2 separate regions of the Homo sapiens genome follow, and region 2 is linked to region 1. Evidence: fine-mapped QTL for protein levels in blood plasma. A gene starts in region 1. The other region holds a variant in brackets. All regions are shown on one strand. Distances are between the middles of the regions.

The links. PIP is the chance, under the fine-mapping model, that this variant and not a neighbour inherited with it causes the effect. The UK Biobank Pharma Proteomics Project read protein levels with antibody pairs (Olink). The fine-mapping took linkage between variants from a reference panel, not from the people measured, so its PIPs are less certain.
Region 2: its variant is fine-mapped to the plasma level of the NPTXR protein (UK Biobank, PIP above 0.99). The variant lies in the coding sequence of NPTXR. If it changes the protein, the assay may bind it differently, which can mimic a change of level.

What each region holds. Positions count from the first base shown.
Region 1 is chr22:38,840,531-38,849,598 of GRCh38, reverse strand. NPTXR (neuronal pentraxin receptor) reads left to right here and starts at 5,571. Exons shown (of 5, transcript NM_014293.4): 1 at 5,571-6,364. The coding sequence starts at 5,741. RefSeq lists a silencer at 5,983-6,052.
Region 2 is chr22:38,823,390-38,832,457 of GRCh38, reverse strand. It overlaps NPTXR (neuronal pentraxin receptor), which reads left to right. Exons shown (of 5, transcript NM_014293.4): 2 at 3,946-4,171; 3 at 5,711-5,958. Among named protein-coding and RNA genes, the nearest start is that of NPTXR, 16 kb to the left of the region's middle. The variant C/T (reference allele first, on the strand shown) is at 5,836.

The DNA of each region.
Region 1 (9,068 bases):
GAACATTTATTGAGCACCTAGTATATGCTAGGAATAAATAAGGAAGGCATAGCAAGTACCGAGCCTTGCCCTGATAACACACAGTAGCATGGTAGGAAATGGTCCCTGTCTTGAGTCCCTGGGAGAGATTTTACACACATCTCACCTGCCCTCATTTCCTTCCCATTACAATCCTATACATAGGTACCACTGGCTCCACCTTACAGGTGAGGAGACTGAGGCAGCTCAGGTCTTGAGACCGGACCTAGATGGAGACTTCAGGATGGACACAGACACTCTCTTTGTCCCCAATCTCTTTACCAACCCCCCTGGGGAAAAGAACTCTTTGTTCACAAGCACACCCCAAAAGGTACCACACGTTTTCTCAATAAATGTTTTTTGAGGCCGGGCGCGGTGGCTCACATCTGTAATCCCACCCATCTGCCCAAACTCCTTCACTGGGAGTTTGAGCACCCACGAGTGCCAGCCCTGGAGTCACAGAGAGGAGGGTGCTGCAGCTGGTCCCTGCCCTCGAGGAGCTCACAGTGTGCAGGCAGCAGGGAAAGAGGGAGATGCTAGAGGAGAGGGAAGGATGGAGGTCGAGGGAAGAGAAAGACGTGTGTGTTTCATTGCTATGTGATACATACCAGCACTGAGACAGTGTGGTGGGAGAATGGGTTTGAAGATAGCCAGGGTGACCAACTGTCCGTGTTTGCCCAGGACTGAGAGGTTTCCCAGGATGCTAGCATTTCAGTGCTGACACTGGGAAAATTCCAGGCCAGATGGGATGAGTTCGTCACCCTAAGCCTGTGTTCAAATCCTGGCTCTGCCATGTGCCTGGTGAAACCGCCAGTTACCTAATTAGCATCCAATCACCCATCTTTTAGAAATGACTTTATTACAGTCTAAAGGCCTTCCCTGTGCAATTCCTCTTTCTCCCTCCTCCCCCCTTTTAAAAGTGTATCTCAGTTCAAAAAACTTTTATTTTTATTTTTGTATTGAGACGGCATCTCACTCTGTCACCCAGGCTGGAGTACAGTGGCACAATCACAACTTACTGCAGCCCCGACCCCTTGGACTAGAGATCCTCTTGCCTCGGTCTTTCAAGTAGCTGGGACTACCGGTGCGTGCCACCACACCCAGGTAATTTTTGTATTTTTTGCAGAGACGGGGTTTCACCATGTTGCCTGGGCTGGTCTTGAACTCCTGGGCTCAAGACATTCTCCTGCCTTCGCCTCCCAAAGTGCTGGGATTACAGGTGTGAGCCACCATGCCTGGCCTCAAAAAACATTATTGAGAAAATACCACGGGCTTTCCTAGGCTCCGGGGAATGAAAGAATGTTCTTTCCCCTTTTATCAGCAGAGACAATGACTGGGAGAATGATTAGATGGACAGGGGAAGAATCCATGATGCCTCTTGCAGCCTGAGGCCAACTGCAGTAGCGGACACTGGTGTTCTTCCCACTAACCTCCCCCTTCCAGGTGTCCCTAAGGAAGAGAGGCCACGGGCACCTTGGAGGGACTACTCCTGACCGTGTATGGAGAACTGGACCTTGGTGTAAGGAATGGACCATGGCAGCCAGGGAGGGGCCCCCTTAGCTCTCCATTCAACAACAACTTTGCCACTCAGCAGCAGGTGAGGCAGTTAGCAGACGCTCTCCAACTTCATGATCCACCTCAGCTTCTGAGCTGAAGCCTTGCTCTTCTGGGGCAACTTCCAGCCAATGACTCAGGGTGAAAAGGGCACCATAGAGACAGGCCATTTGTGCCTGATGCAAAAACTCCCTCGTGGGCAGTCTCGGCCCCAGAGCTCCCTGTCGGGGTGGCCAACACTTTGTTAGATCAGCACCGAAGTCAGAGGTTCTCCCTGCCCGATTCTGTTTCTGGCCCTCTTATCTTTCACAGGACATCACCCCCAATAAAGCACTTGCACTTCCAACCCCATCTCAGTGTCCGCTTCCTGGAGGACCCAACTGACAAACACTACCTGTAAAACAGATTCATCCACGTCTCTCCACCACCACCAATTCCAAGTCACCATTACTTGGAGAAGCACCTGGAGGGAGGCATAGCCCTCCAATTGTAACCCCCCTACTTCCTCTTGTTTTGTTTGTTTGTTTTTGTTTTTGAGACAGGGTCTCTGTCGCCCAGACTGCAGTGCAGTGGCGTGATCTCGGCTCACCGCAACCTCCGCCTCCCAGGCTCAAGTGATTCTCTTGCCCAGCCTCCCGAATAGCTGGGATTACAGGCGCGCACCACTACCACCTGGCTAATTTTTGTATTTTTAGTAGAGACGGGGTTTCACCATGTTGGCCAGGCTGGCCTAGAACTCCTGACCTCAAACGATCCACCCGCCTTGGCCTCCCAAAGTGCTGGGATTACAGGCATGAGTCACCGCTCCCGGCCCTCTGTTATCTCTTTGTAACCCAGTCTCCAGACAACTGCCAGAGTGGTCTTTTAAAAACACAGTCCAGGTGATATCACTTCCGTGCTTCAGCCCTCCAGTTGGGCTTCGAGTCAGACCCACTCCCTTCCCGGAGCCTGTAAATCTCTACACGGCCCCCACCTTCCTGTCCAGCTTCCTCCCTCCCCTACATCTCACTCTGCCTCTAGCCCCACTCTGTTCCTTCTGTTCCTGAAATATATTACGCTCCTTTCTGCCCCAGGGCCTTTGCACTAGCGGTTCCCTCTGCCTAGAACACACCATCTTTCCCCAGACTTCTGCATGGCTGGTTTCCCAGGTCATTTAGGTCTGAGCTCCAATGCAGGCCTTTTCTGACCACCTTATAAATACTGCCCACCTCCCAATTCCCCCTTCCTACTTCCTGTAACTTTCTATAACATCACTTGAAGATTTTTCTTTGTCATTCTCATCATTATTGGAAATTAACTTGTTTACTTAGTTATTCATTTGTTTACTGCCTGCCTCCCCACTGGAATATAAACTGCGTGAGCTTGTCTTGTTCCCAGCTCTCTCCAATGCTTGGCACTATGCCTGGCACAATGTAGGTCTCAAAACATATTTTCTAAAATGAATTCCTATATTTGTTATATATGGCAGAATTCCCTTGGCCTAAGAATGGAATGAAAGTGAAGAAATTTAAAAAAAAAAAAACTAGGAGTCATGACAATTCAGAGGGAAAATATAGGAACTATTCCAGTTTTAGGGAAGTTCCCCTGAGAATACTTCTCTGCCCATCCCTTGAGGAATCCTGTGTTAGGATTAAGGGGGGTCTCTCCCAGGACCCAGGAGAGACGAGTTTTGGGACTTCTCTGTCCTCTCCTCCTTCCTCTGCCTCCAGCAGTGGCATTAGGAACTAGTTCAGCAAACATTCACCGAGAAGCTTCCCTGGGCAGGCTTCATGCTGAATGCTGGGGATAGAGATGGGCCAAGGAAGAAGGGAGAGGCTGGGCGCCATGGCTCACGCCTGTAATCCCAGCACTTTGGGAGGCCGAGGCAGGTGGATCACCTGAGGTCAGGAGTTCAAGACCAGCCTGGCCAACATATTGAAACTCCATCTCTACTAAAAATACAAAAATTAGCTGGGCGTGGTGGCGTGCACCTGTAGTCCCAGCTACTTGGGAGACTGAGGCAGGAGAATTGCTTGAACCCGCAAGGCAGAGGTTCCAGTGAGCCGAGATCACGCCACCGCACTGCAGCCTGGGTGACAGAGCAAGACTCTGTCTCAAAAATAAAATAAAATAAAAAATAAAGTCATTCTAGGAGATCAACAGACCAGTTTAAACACAATTTGACTCCAGCCTCTGGACCCATTTATCCAAACTGTCCCCAAAGTCTCAGGGGGCAGCTCAGGTAAAGGTGGCACCATTTGGTGCCCAAGTCACAGTGGCTCTGCTGCTCTTGGCAGCAGCCCTCTCTCTTGGCATCTCCTGTCCTTCCCTGGACTTCCTATGACAGTTTCTCCTGGGGATGCTATCTCCGTGTTTCTGTCTTCACGGCACACGTGTAGATGTACCAGGAGTCCCGATGTCTCATGCATCCCCAGGACTTTAGCAGGGCCTACCGCTGGCCTTTGCCTTCCAAGAGCCCAGCCCATCTCTCTGTCCATGAGATGCTTCCTCCAAGCCCAGCTGCCTGCCCTGGGTTTTGAGGTTACGACTTCAGTGAGCACCAGCACACATCCACGCACACACAGCACTCAGGTTCCTGGCATACAGCGCTTGTGTTTGCTTCTCTCCTCTTTCACAACTCAGGTATGGATGAAAATCCCTGGCTCCTAGAGATGGGTGAACAGGGTGGACATCATCCTAACATGTGTGGAGAGAGGGAGGTGGAGCACGTGTGCCTGGGAACACTGGACAAAATCCCCGTGGCTGGAGAGCGTCCCCCAGGGTTGTGGCTTCCTGGGAAACATTCCGGTCTCTCCCCACCACCAGCGCTATGTGAAGTACACTCGAAACCACAGTGGTAGCCGTGGTGGTCCAGAGATCCTGGTTTGCGCTTTCCCTTCAAGTCAAAAATGCAGGCTTGGAAGGGAGACAGAGCTGGGAATAACCACAGCCCTCCCAAGGCCCTTCCAGCCCTGGGAATCCGTATTGGTCAGGAAAGACCTCATGGAAAATTGGAGCTGGGGATAAAGTGTGGAGGATAGTAGGATTGTTTTTAAGTTTTTAATTGCAAAGTTAATTTTCAACAAAATATATATAGACATTTTTGACAGAAGAAAGTAAAACGCTCCTCTGCCACCCCCACAGCACAGCCCACTCCCATTCCTGCTGTTCCTTCTGGGCCTGGTCCACATGCCCACCAGGCACGTGGCACCGCTTGCCAACGAAGGCAGACTGCAGTGGGGGTGGGGGGTTTCTCTGGACCTGTGAGGCTCTAAGCCCCCAAGGATTCAGAGGAGAGAATTTCCATCATCCTCTGAGATCACAGGAAGATTCTGTAATGAGGGTGGCGGGGAGTGAACTCTGCTCCTTCAGAAGGTTGGAGGTGGGGGTGACGGGCAGGTGGCCACAGTATAAACAGAAGTTAGGTCAAAATCCGAGCCTCCCCCCAACCCCCAACACTGGCCTCTTCTCCACCTCTAACCGCTCCCACTCCAGCCCCATCCACAGTCTGGTCCGGTGAAACGTGCCTAAGCTCGCAGGCGGCTCCAACGCAGCCACCCGGTGACCTTGGACAGAGGCCTGACCTCAGGTGTCTCAGTTTCCTCATTTCTATTGTGAGCCTGTCCACGGCAAGGCTCAATTGCGACCGAGCTTGTGGCGCGCCCAGTGCACAGCCCCACCCGGAAGAAAGCTCCCTCCCGGGTGGATGTGAACATAACCGGCTTGGGGAGGGGGCCCGAGCACGGGAGGGCTGGGATGGGGGTCACCCAGGAGCCCCGCCGCGCGGCCCTCGGGTCGCCGGCCCCTGCGCTGTGACCGCGGCGAGATAAGGTCCCAGGCGCTGCCCTCGCTCCTCGCCGCATCCCCGGCGGCGCCCCCAGCCGGGCGCCCGGCACTGAACGGGTGCGGGGCTGGGCCGGGGCCAGGGCCGGCCCGGGGAAGCGAGTGGGGCGGGGCCGCCGCGCCCGCTCCCCCTCCCCGCCGCCTGCCGTCTTCTCCTCCTCCCGCCGCCCGGGCTCAGAGCGGCGGCAGCAGCGGCCGCGGCGACAGCTCCAGCTCCGGCTCCGGCTCCGGCTCCGGCTCCGGCTCCCGCGCCTGCCCCGCTCGGCCCAGCGCGCCCGGGCTCCGCGCCCCGACCCCGCCGCCGCGCCTGCCGGGGGCCTCGGGCGCCCCCGCCGCCCGCCTCACGCTGAAGTTCCTGGCCGTGCTGCTGGCCGCGGGCATGCTGGCGTTCCTCGGTGCCGTCATCTGCATCATCGCCAGCGTGCCCCTGGCGGCCAGCCCGGCGCGGGCGCTGCCCGGCGGCGCCGACAATGCTTCGGTCGCCTCGGGCGCCGCCGCGTCCCCGGGCCCGCAGCGGAGCCTGAGCGCGCTGCACGGCGCGGGCGGTTCAGCCGGGCCCCCCGCGCTGCCCGGGGCACCCGCGGCCAGCGCGCACCCGCTGCCGCCCGGGCCCCTGTTCAGCCGCTTCCTGTGCACGCCGCTGGCTGCTGCCTGCCCGTCGGGGGCCCAGCAGGGGGACGCGGCGGGCGCTGCGCCGGGCGAGCGCGAAGAGCTGCTGCTGCTGCAGAGCACGGCCGAGCAGCTGCGCCAGACGGCGCTGCAGCAGGAGGCGCGCATCCGCGCCGACCAGGACACCATCCGTGAGCTCACCGGCAAGCTGGGCCGCTGCGAGAGCGGCCTGCCGCGCGGCCTCCAGGGCGCCGGGCCCCGCCGCGACACCATGGCCGACGGGCCCTGGGACTCGCCTGCGCTCATTCTGGAGCTGGAGGACGCCGTGCGCGCCCTGCGGGACCGCATCGACCGCCTGGAGGTGAGCGCCGCGCGCCGTCGGGGGAGCCGCCCGGGTGGTGTGAGGGGCCGCCCGGCCGCGGTCGTCCGGCGGTCCCCGAGCCTCCGGTCTCCCGTCTGTGTTCCGGGGACGATCGCGCCTTCCTCGCTGGCGAGGCGGGGGGATTTCGATAGGGAACGCGGGCAGGCGTCTGGCACGGTGACTGAGGCACAGAGGGCGCGCCAGAAAGATTCGCTCCCCACCCTTTTCCGTCTCCAGGCACCTCTCTGAGCCTCAGTTTCTGTGTCTGTAAAATAGGTATAACAGTGTCCACTTGTAGTGGAAATTGAATCAAATGTAGGTGTGTGAAAATGCTTGGCACGTACTAGGACCTCATTAAATGTCCCTTTCATTTCCTTCTTCCGGACACCCCCAAATCAGCCCAGCTCCACGCTCACACTTTATGGCCAGGAGATGGATGCGCTGTCCAAAGGACTTGGGGTCCTCCCCTCATTACACAGAGCCGGGAACAGAGTGCCCTATAAGACAAACCTGGGTGCCCCTCACCACCTCCCTACCCTGAATCTCCCACTCTGGCTCAGACTATGACCCAAACCGCAGGAGCTCAGGTGCCAGGCGCCCAGCCTCACACACCTGGAAGCCCACAGCTCTTGGGTGGGGGCTGAATGGAGAACAGGGCCCCCCGAGCTCCTCCTCCTCCACTCACTTTTCCAGGCTTTCCTGACTCAGGCTTGGGGTCAGACACAAGGGGTCCAGCATGGGGGAACCCACTCTTGGCTCTCATGTGACCCTGGGCCAGTCATTTCCCCCCTGGAGTCCCATGGCCACCTTCCTCCCTGTAAGAATGAATTTGGGGCTCCCAGAAGTGCAAGGCAGACAGACTGGGCAGGACAAACATCCGGGACACATTCACTACCCCAGCCATGGCCTGACTTCCAGACCACAAGGAAGGGGGTTAAGCAACAAAATCAGATCTGTGGAAGGAAGAGAGAGAAAGAGGCCAAAGCCCGCGCTGCCCCCTCTGCTACCTCCACCCAGGTGGAGTGCAGCAGGCAAGTTGGAGGGAGGAGAGAGGCGGGGAGTAAATGCAGGGACCCCTTACTCCCGGGGCTTTTTAAGTTAAATCCTGGGCAAGCAGCACTGGTGATGCCCACTCACAAGGCTGAGGATGTCGTGGTCTGACAGCCCTCCAGGACGTCTGTACTGGTGTCAGCACCCTCCCCACAGGGTGTCAGAGTGCAGCCAGTCAGCCATTGCAGCCAACCCCTCACCTTACGGATGAGAAAACTCAGCTCAGAAACGTCCTAAGAGAGGTGGCAGAGGCAGGAGAAAAGCCGGGCCCATACCCACCTCTTCCCCGACTCCAGCTCTGGGGGATTTCTAGGATGAGAGAACCAAGAGCAGGAAAATAATCAGGAAAAAGGTGAAAGTATGCAATGAAGGGAAGTCTTAGTTTTCTCGCCTGTAAAATGGGGATAGTAATAGCACCTACCTCACTGGGATATTAGGAGGATTAAGTACTTTATATGAAAGGCCAAGAATAGTGCCTGGCACACAGGTATGTTCAGTCAATTTGAGTGATGGCTATTTTTATCATTAAGCTATAATATTACTCATTTTTAAAATACAGCCAAAACTCAAAATAGGAACAAACAGGTTTTAGGCAACAGGTTTTAGTCATGTAAAAAACAATTTTTGACTTTCATTGAATAAACTTCCTCGTGCCTGCCATAGCCCCTGCCCCCACGCCCAGATGGCACAGGTGGCTCCTCCCACGTCTGGGGCTGGCAGGCTTGGACCTGCCTTGGACCTGTGCCCCCAGCACCTGCAGCATTTGGCAGGGTGGCCTCCCTTCCGGTTAGCCCGCTGAGGTTGGGGGGATCCTGGCAGCTGGAATTTGGCAACAGGTCAGCCTTCCAGGCTGGGGGAGCCCTGGCTTCCCCATGTATACCTTTTCCTCTTTTCTGAGTGCAGCAGCCACAGACAGAGAAGGGCGGGGCCCTGCTTGGCCACCAGGTCTGCTTTCTGAGCGTGGCAACAGCCACAGCTAGTCTTTTGGGGGCCTCTGGGAGGGGCTGGGGCTGGAGCTGGAGCACAGCAGACACAGGGTGAGACCACTTGGCTCAGCGGAGTCCCATGCACCCGTTAGCCACTGTCCAATCTCTCCCCTCTCTTCTCATTCAGTATCCTCAAAGTGCCCAGATTTTCAGGGTCTCCTTTCCCTCCCAGGATACACTGAAGGTGCTCTTGCTAATGTCCCCAAGATGATAAATGAGGACTTCTCAGTCCTTATCTTGGGGGAACCCTCTCTGACACCTGACCCTGCTGATCATCCCCTCTTGCAGGTCTCCATGCCCTGGGCTTCCAGCCGCCTCTCACAGCAGCCCTCCTCCTCCCTCTGTCTGCTGCCTCTGTCTCCTTGCAGGGTCCTCCTCCTTTAAGGCATGTGCCCGTCTTGGCCCTCACTTTCCCTGGGTACACTCAGCCATGCCCTGAGGCTTCCCACACCCATTCCACGGAGGGGCCCCAAACCAAACTCAGTGTCCAGCCCAGGTTTCCTTCCCAAGCTCCAGACCCATCAACACATCGGCCTCCTGAGCATCTCTCTCTGGTTGTCCCATCAGCCCCCTAACCACACTGTGTTTCAGCTTGAACCAGGTACCTCCATGTGCCCTGAGAAACCATCCTTGGCCCCTCCCTCTCCCCCCAGTTCTGATTGGCCTCA
Region 2 (9,068 bases), 17 kb after region 1:
CAGCACACTTACGCCAAACCCCACCCCGGACTCCCAGCGGGACAGGCCATGGGTTCCCAGCCTCCACCTTTCTGCCCCAGCAGGAGCTGAGTGGGGGTGCTGGCGTCATCATTCCCTCCATCATCTTAGGTGAGGGGCCCAGTTGGCATCGGGCCGGGAGCCCACGCGGCACAGCCTGCGCCCACAGCAGATGGGAAGTGGGGGTGCGGGAGTCGTGTTCTTCTGATTCAGACACTGGGACGGGGAGGGACTCACACACGATCCGGCGAGCCCACCTCCTCCATGGCCTTCCTGGCCGCTGCAGAGCCAGTGGCTCTGACAAAAGAACAGCTTGAGCGCACACCCCCTCAGCCCGCACGTTTTCTCCTCCAAACAGCGTCTGTTTAAATAGCCTCGACTCCCTGTTCTTGCTGGCAGATCTTCCTCCCTCTGTTCTTCCTGGCAAGTCTTCCTCCCTCTCTCCCTTTGCTGGAGAGAGGAGATGCTGGCTCCAGGGGTATCGGTTTGGCCCAGCCCCATTGCTATAGACAATTCAAAACGACTCCTGCCTTGGTTTCCCATCTGTGAAATGGGGATACGAAGAGTGCCAGCCTCAGCGAGCAGCTGCGAGGATTCATGAGTAAACACATGCCAAGTGCCTATGATGGGCCCGGTGCACAGCCTCACTCCCGCATGCCCCTCTGGCCTCAAGCTTGGCACAGAGCGGGTGGAGAACTGAGGACAGAACAGTACCTGGGACCAGGGACACCCTGCCCCAGCCCGCCCTTCCAGCCCTGAGATGAAATGCGCCCCTTGAGCTGATTGCCTCAGTCCAAGGCTTCCTGGAAGTCCAGCCATCTCGAATGCAGTGGGTGGCTGACCCTGTCACCCTGTGGGCCATCCAGTGTCACCTGAAGGCTCTGGAGGTAATGAGCGCCCCATCAGCTAATGTAGTCAAGCCCCACAGTTGGCATTATGCTTTTATAGTCCATGAGGGCCTGTCACTTGTCCTCCCATCCTTCCATCTGTCCTGGGAATGAACAAGAGGAAGTCTGTTTCACCCCACACACACTTTTTTTTGTCTCGCTCTGTTGCTCAGGCTGGAGTGCAGTGGTATGATCATGACTCACCGCAGCCTCAACCTCCTGGGCTTAAGCAATCCTCCTGCCTCAGCCACCCAAGTGGCTGGGGCCACAGGCATGCACCACCATGCCTGGCTAATCTTTGTATTTCTTGTAGAGATGGGGTTTCGCCATGTTGCCCAGGCTGGTCTCGAACTCCAGGGCTCAAGCGCCTGTCTTGGCCTCCCAAAGTGCTGGGATTACACACATGAGCCACCATGCCCAGCCTGTTCCCGTTTTAGAGGAGGGGAAACCAAGGCTTTGTGGTTAGTCTGCACCAGAGTCAGGGTTTATAGGCACCTTGACAGAAGGAGCCCTCGGGAAAGCAAAGATGAATGTAAGCGGGGAGTGCACTGTAAGGCTCCTCGCCCATCCCATGCCCACCTTCACCTGGCCTCCACCCCATCCTCGTGGGCCAAGTAGGCATCTGCGTGGCTGGGAGGCCGTGACCTCTTACACAAGAGGTGGGGGGGGTGGATAATGGTGGCCAGAGTCCCCCCTCTCCCGCTGCTTTCATGGGTCCCTTTCCAGAGCCAGCCTGGACGACCACAGTGACTTGTGTCTGTTGCCCCATCTTACAGCCTGGAATGGAGAGGTTGATCCTCAGCCCCTCCCACTGCCAGCAGAAGAGGGGGGTTGCTGAGTGTGAGTGGCACCAGACCCCCTGCCCTGTGAAGCAACCTCACCTTTCCCATGGGAGCCAAGGGACAGGTGGGACAGAGAGGGAATAGGGCTTCTGGAGAGGCCGCTTGGCAGATGCCAAGAGAGGCTGCGTGGCGAGTGATGCAGAGGGGGCGGGCGAGCCAGACTGCTAGGCTCAGATCCCAGCTCTGCTCCTGCTCCTGGTGTGATCTTAGTTAACTCACCCTAGTTTTCCTGCCCCTGAAATGGGGACACTGGCATGTTAAGTGGATTCAGAGAGGGAATGTTTGCAAGGTGTCTGCTAAGGCTCAGCCGGCAGCAAGAGCGTCCCATTCAGTCTTCCCACCTACCCCATGCACCCAAAACCATGCCCCCGGCACCCACTGTGGGCCAGGCTCTGGGCACTTCCCTTACACGCCATCATTTAATGCTGGCCAGCCCTGGAGGCTGAGCATTCCGTGTCTCCATCTTATAGAAGGGGAAAAATGATCTCGGAGTGTCAGCCCACCTGTCCCTACTCTCACGGGGCAGTGGCAGAGCCGAGGGCCGGTTCCTGCAACTCCTCAAAATGAGGTCACATTGCTGTCCACACTGGCAGCTCCCAAGTCTCGGGCACTGAGCATGGCAGTGGTCCTTTGCCCCCAGCACTCTGATGCAGGGGACGCACTTCTCCCCTTGTCCCATGGCTAGAAAACAGGCTCAGAGAAGTTAAGGAGGAGTGCACAGCTCAGAAGGAACACGCGGCCCTCAGTCACAGCAGCCACCAGCAGTGTCCAGTGTCACCCAGCAAATGACTGACAAGGCCATTGGCTGGGCCAGTGAGGCTGGACAGGGGATTCTATACTTGTCCCAGGCTGCAAGGCCATCCCCTCGCAGCTTAGGAAACTGAGGAAAGGTGGGGTTCTTGGTTTTCTGTTTTGCCTCCAGCCACAACTTCAGCATCTGGGGCAGTGCCCAGCACAATGGGGGTGCCCTCTGAATGTTTGCTCAGTGACTGAATCACAGAATGCAATGAGTTCGTGTCTGGGGCCTAAGCCTGGGAGCAAGGAACTGACTGAGCAAAAACTTCCCAGGCCCCTGGGGAGTTCGCAAGCATCAGGCCTGGTAGCGGGGACCATGGAGGAGGGGGAATCCAGGAGGATGGTGGAGGATGGTGAAGGTTTAATTTAGCTCCTAGCAGCTCATTGAATTATTAATCTCCTACTGACATTTCTGTGACATGTCTGCCACAGACTGTCCCCTTGAAGAGTCTGGACCTGCGGCCTCACCTGCGTTCCTCCACCCCAGAGGGGCCTTCTTCCAGCAGGAGAAGGGGAAGGAAACCCTCCCAGCTCCTGCCCCAGTTCTGCTGCCCTTGGGGTCTTAAGATAAGACAGGCATGTCATGGGGAACTCTGAACACTTAGACCTCATCCCGGGCTGGATGGGGGATGTCAGAGCCTACCCTGGAACACCCTGCCCTAGACAGCAATTGCAATAAGCAGGCTCTGTTTATTGATATTTAATCCTTAGTCCTCCCCACAACTCTCCAAATAGGTGCAGCTCTCTTTTGAGTAAACAAGTTCAGAGAAGTCAGGATATTTTCTCAGAGTCACATAGCAGATTGGTTACCGAGCTGGTTTTGAACCCTGGGCTGTCTGACTCCAAAGTATGTGATTTCAACCACCTGTCACCCTGGTATGGTCAAGCCACCGGGGCCCTGCTCCAGAAGTCCCTGTTTCACGCCCTGAGTGGGCCCAGTGGCCATACAGAGCCTTTTGCCAAGGACCGTTCTAGAGAAGCTTGCTGAGTGAGGGAATGAAGACTAAGATGGTCCGCCCCTTTACCAGCCTATCAGTGTCTAGCCTTGCTGCTATGAAGGACTAGGGTGGGGCGTTCAGCCCCAGCTGCACCCTGAAACCACCTGGGGGACCTTCACAGCACTCATGGCCACGCCCCACACCCCCACCACAGCCTGAGCTGTCCTTGAGGGCCGGGGCCAGCTCTGCCTGCTGCTCGCCGTCATGTGCCAGCACCAGGAACAGAGCCTGCCAGGGACCCAGGATGCATCTGTTGCCTGATGTTGGCCATTGTCATTCCCATTTTGCATACTGGGGAAGCTGAGGCTCCCCTGGGGTCACTGAGCAGGGGCGGTAGGCATCTGAGTGTTCCCAGCCTGTCCTTCCTCCCCTCAGTTGATTTCTGTTTCTCTGCCCTGTGAACAGCAGGAGCTTCCAGCCCGTGTGAACCTCTCAGCTGCCCCAGCCCCAGTCTCTGCTGTGCCCACCGGCCTACACTCCAAGATGGACCAGCTGGAGGGGCAGCTGCTGGCCCAGGTGCTGGCACTGGAGAAGGAGCGTGTGGCCCTCAGCCACAGCAGCCGCCGGCAGAGGCAGGAAGTGGAAAAGGAGTTGGACGTCCTGCAGGGTCGTGTGGCTGAGCTGGAGCACGGTGGGTCCTGGGTCCTGCAGAGGGCATTGGAGGGGTCCTCAGGATGACAGAGCCATTCAAAAAATATATCCATGCTCCCCGGAGGCTAACATCGACAGACTGGAGGGTGGGGAGGAGGCTGTGGAACACACAGTGGAGAGAATCATTGGGGGATATTGTTATCATTATCAACATTATTAACAGATCTCATTTTCTGGCACTTACTGTGTCCTGGGAGTGGGCTAAGTACTTGATACATCAGCTGATTTAATCCACAGTTTTCACAGATGAGAAGACCGAAGCTCAGAGAAGTCAAGTGACATGCTCAAGGTCACACAGACAAAAGTGGCGGGTCTGGACCTCAAACAAGGTCTGACTCCACAACCATACATTTAACCACCCACAAAATAGCATTTTCAATGACTTGGTCAGGATTTTGTTTAACACTTGTGCCTGGCACTGCCAAGGGGTCAAAGGAACATAATGGGCAGGGTACAGGTATAAGCATAAGGAGACCTGGCTCCTGGTTGCATATCTGTCTCTGGCTTGCTCTGTGACCTCAGAAGTTCACTTCCTTCCCCAGGCCTCAGTTTTCCTCATCTGAGAAATAGGGGTTTAGGACTCATGAGCTCTCAAAGACCTTTCAGCTTTCAATTCTTGTGAAGACCACCCTTAAGAGGCTTACAGACAAGTTGGGGAGAACAGGAGAAATGGTGAGCAGTTAGCTGGGACCAGCTTACATGGGGAACAGGGGTTCAGGAGAAGAAAATCCAGGCCCAGGCATGGTGGCTCATGCCTGTTATCCCGACACTTTGGGAGGTTGAGGTGGGCGGATCACCTGAGGTCAGGAGTTCAAGGCCAGCCTGCCCATCATGGCAAAACCCCATTTCTACTAAAAATGCAAAAATTAGCTGGGTGTGGTGGTGCATACCTGTAATCCCAGCTACTCGGGAGGCTGGGGCAGGAGAATTGCTTGAGCCTGGGAGGTGAAGGTCGCAGTGAGCTGGGCAACAGAGGGAAACTCCGTCTCAAAAAAAAAAAAAAAAAGAAAGAAAAAAAGAAAAAGAAAAGAAAAGAAAGAATATCCAAGCTGCTTCCTGGAGGAGGCAGGCCTCAAGCTACTTCTTGAAAACAGTGGTGAGGAGCAAATTTCAGAATGGAGGGGCCATCGCAGGGGCACAGCTGCAGGGGAGGGACAGGTCTGGTGGCTCAGGGCCAGCATCCTAGGTGGAGCACAGGAACAGGAGAAGCAACCTCCAGCCCTCCTCAGCCCTGCCTCTGGCCTGTCTACCCCGGGTCTCCCAACAAGTTTAATTTGTTGACGGTCACGTGGCTGGGAAGTGGGGGAGACGAGATTTGGTCTCAGGACATCTAAGGTCCAGAGCCCCTGCACTTTAATCACACCCCTCAACACAGAGGTGGAGCAGAGAGAGCCCTGAAGGCACTGGGCATGCAGCAGGTGCCTGGGAGCTGTTAGCCATCTTTCTGAAGTGTGCCCTGTCCACCCCACCCTTTTCGGTGTCCACCGACCTCCACCATGTCTGCCTTGCCCACCCTCAGGGTCCTCAGCCTACAGTCCTCCAGATGCCTTCAAGATCAGCATCCCCATCCGTAACAACTACATGTACGCCCGCGTGCGGAAGGCTCTGCCCGAGCTCTACGCATTCACCGCCTGCATGTGGCTG[C/T]GGTCCAGGTCCAGCGGCACCGGCCAGGGCACCCCCTTCTCCTACTCAGTGCCCGGGCAGGCCAACGAGATTGTACTGCTAGAGGCGGGCCATGAGCCCATGGAGCTGCTGATCAACGACAAGGTAGGCAGGGCTGGCAGGGAGGGCTGGCTGGGGGAGGGCCACCCTTCCAGAAGCACCCACTCCACACTGGGCTCTTTCATTCTCCTGCTCATTCTCCTGCTCTGCATATTCAGCACACATTAAGTACCTACCGTGTGCTAGGCTGGGCTCTGGGAATATAAAGACAAGCCAGACATGGAGCTGCCGGAAGAGAGGCTGTGTCCAATAGAGGCTCTAAGTGTTGTTCCATTTTACAGAGGAGGCAAGTGAAGCTCTTGGGGATCCAGTGACTTCCCCAGTGACCCAGCTATGGGACAGGGCTGAGGTGTCTGCCCCCAGGGCCCTGCTCATCATCCTGGACTTAAAGAGAAGGGAGGTGGCCGGGCGCACTGGCTCATGCCTGTAATCCCAGCACTTTGGGAGGCCGAGGCGGGCGGATCACGAGGTCAGGAGATTGAGACCATCCTGGCTAACATGGTGAAACCCCATCTCTACTAAAAATACAAAAAAATTAGCCGGGTGTGGTGGTGGGCACCTGTAGTCCCAGCTACTCGGGAGGCTGAGGCAGGAGAATGGCCAGAACCCGAGAGGCAGAGCTTGCAGTGAGCTAAGATCGCACCACTGCACTCCAGCCTGGGCGACAGAGGAAGACTCTGTGTCAAAAAAAAAAAAAAAAAAAAGAGAGAGAGAGAAGGGAGGTGCACAGACCTACCTGGGGATGGAGGGAGGAAGGGAGTGCTTGTGGCCTCCTCGTTCCTTCTACTTCCCTGGAGCCAGCCCCTCGGGCCCTCCCCGCTATGGAGAGTAGAAAGGTGTTGTGCTCAGGCTCTGGGACCCAAATGCTGGTTTGAGTCTTGGTTCTGCATCTTCACCATTGTGTGACCTCAGACTAGTCTTCTACTTGCCCTGTGCCTCAGTTTGCTTATCTCTAAAGCAGGAATGATAAGAACTCTTGTCTCTTAGGGTTGTAGTGAGAAGTGGCTTAAATGCATGTAGAGGGCTTTGAGCAGATCCTAGCGTTTAGCAGACATCAATAACTGTGAGCTATTTTTATTATACTGGGCACTGTGCTAATAAGCAGTTTACTCACATTATTACCCTTGACCTTCCCAACAGCACTGGGAAGTAGGTACCCTCATTATCCCCATTTTGCAGATGGAGAAACTGAGGCTCAGAGAGGGGAAGTAATGCACCCTGGCCACACAGCTGCTGGGGTGTGATGTGATTCAGGGTCTTGGGCTCCGGAAACCACCTTTTAACCCCTCCCCTGTTCTGCCCTTGGGCCACCCATCTTCCTCATGCCCAGGCCTCCCTCCCCGATGCCCCTCCTTCAGCCTGGCTGGAAGGCAGGACAAGGACAAGGCAGGGAGAATGATGTGGCAGGAGCATGGTAATTGAGGGGAGAGGAAGGGGAGCATCTCATCACTGTCATCCACTCCTAAAGCTCCTCCCCAACCTGCCACATTGTTTTGGGCCTTGCAGGCATGGTGGTCTATTGAGACCCCCCTGGAAATGCAGATACCACATATCGTACCCACCTGTGACCAGCCCACAACACATAAAGCCACTAGGAGTGATTGATACCCATCAGACCCAGCTTAGCAGAAGGTGCATTTCATGGCATTCTGGAGGGGGAGGAGGAGGAGGGAGGAGATGAGTCCAGGGACCAGTGACTTTCCCTTGTGGCCCAATAAACCCTACGACCACCGGGGTGGCTGGACTACATCTAGATCCTGCTGCCTTGTGCCCTTCATCACCCCCTGGCTGCCGTCCTTGGCCTGGCCCAAGTTCAGCACTCAGTTCTCATTAGAAGGAATTCAGCACCCTGGACAGGGCATTGGGCAGCCCTGTTCTGGGACGCTCTAGAGTCCTTTTGAGAGCCAGCCTAACAGACTGCTCACTGTTCCCTTTTTATTCCAGCCTCTAAGCCTTTACTCCTTCTGTGCCCACCACTTGTTTTGCCTAGCAATGGAATGGTGGATCCATTGTCCTTCCAGACGGGTTTTGACGTGGCTTCTGTTCCCATATCCCCTCTACCTCTGGGCCTCGCAGCCTCTGTACCTCCCATATGCCCTCCGTTATTTTGTCTTATAGCATTGCCCCAAAGTCCTTCCCCTCCTGCAGACTCAGCTCATTTAAGGCGTGGACCAGCTCCACATCCCCAGGATCCACAACAAGGCCAGGCACCACGTAGGCCTCAGAGAATGTTACATTAAATTGTGATCTCAGGCTGGGTAAGGTGGCTCTTGCCTGTAATCCCAGCACTCTGAGAGGCTGAGGTGGGTGGATCATCTGAGGTCAGGAGTTCAAGACCAGGCTGGCCAATATGGTGAAATCCCGCCGTTTCTACTAAAAATACAAAAAAAAAAAAAAAAAAATAGCTGGGCATGGTGGTGCACGCCTGTAATCCCAGCTACTTGGGAGGCTGAGGGAGGAGAATTGCTTGAACCAGGAGATGGAGGCTGTGGTGAGCTGAGATCACACCACTGCACTCTATCCTGGGCAACATAGTGAAATTCCATCTCAAAAAAAAAAATGTGACCTCAGGAAACTTACCAGATGAGGAAGCCCTTTGGGAGCACCAAATCCACAGACAGCAAGCACCTTTCATCTTACAGGCCAGCTCTAACCCATCAGCAGTGGCTTTCCAGAGCACTGTGCTGAGGGATCTGAGCTAAATCGAGGCTCGTGATTGATTGGCTATGTCTGCCCTGGGTGGAGGAAGATTTGCCATCCCTTGCAGACTTGTCATCCCTTGTCTGACCTCACTTTACAGATAAGGAAACTGAGGCCCAGGGAGGAAGGAGCAGCCTCCCCAGATCACACAGGGGTTGGTGGCAGAGCCAGGGCCAGATGCTGGAGCCTGGCCTCTGAGTCCAAGGCTCATTCTATCCCTGCCAGTACTTCTTGAGCCCTAGCTGTGTGCTGAGTGCTGTGTGAGGTGTTCAGGGGAAGTTGGGATTATGAGACATCCCTCTCTCCCCAAGTGACCTTAATAGGCCTGTTGGAGAGTGAGTGAACTACCTTGTGACAACTGAAAACCAAAACCAGAGAGTCCCTTGTGATCTGGTTTGGTCTTTGAGGAAAGAGGAGACAGGAGTCAGGGAAAGACACTGGGCAGGAGGATGGAG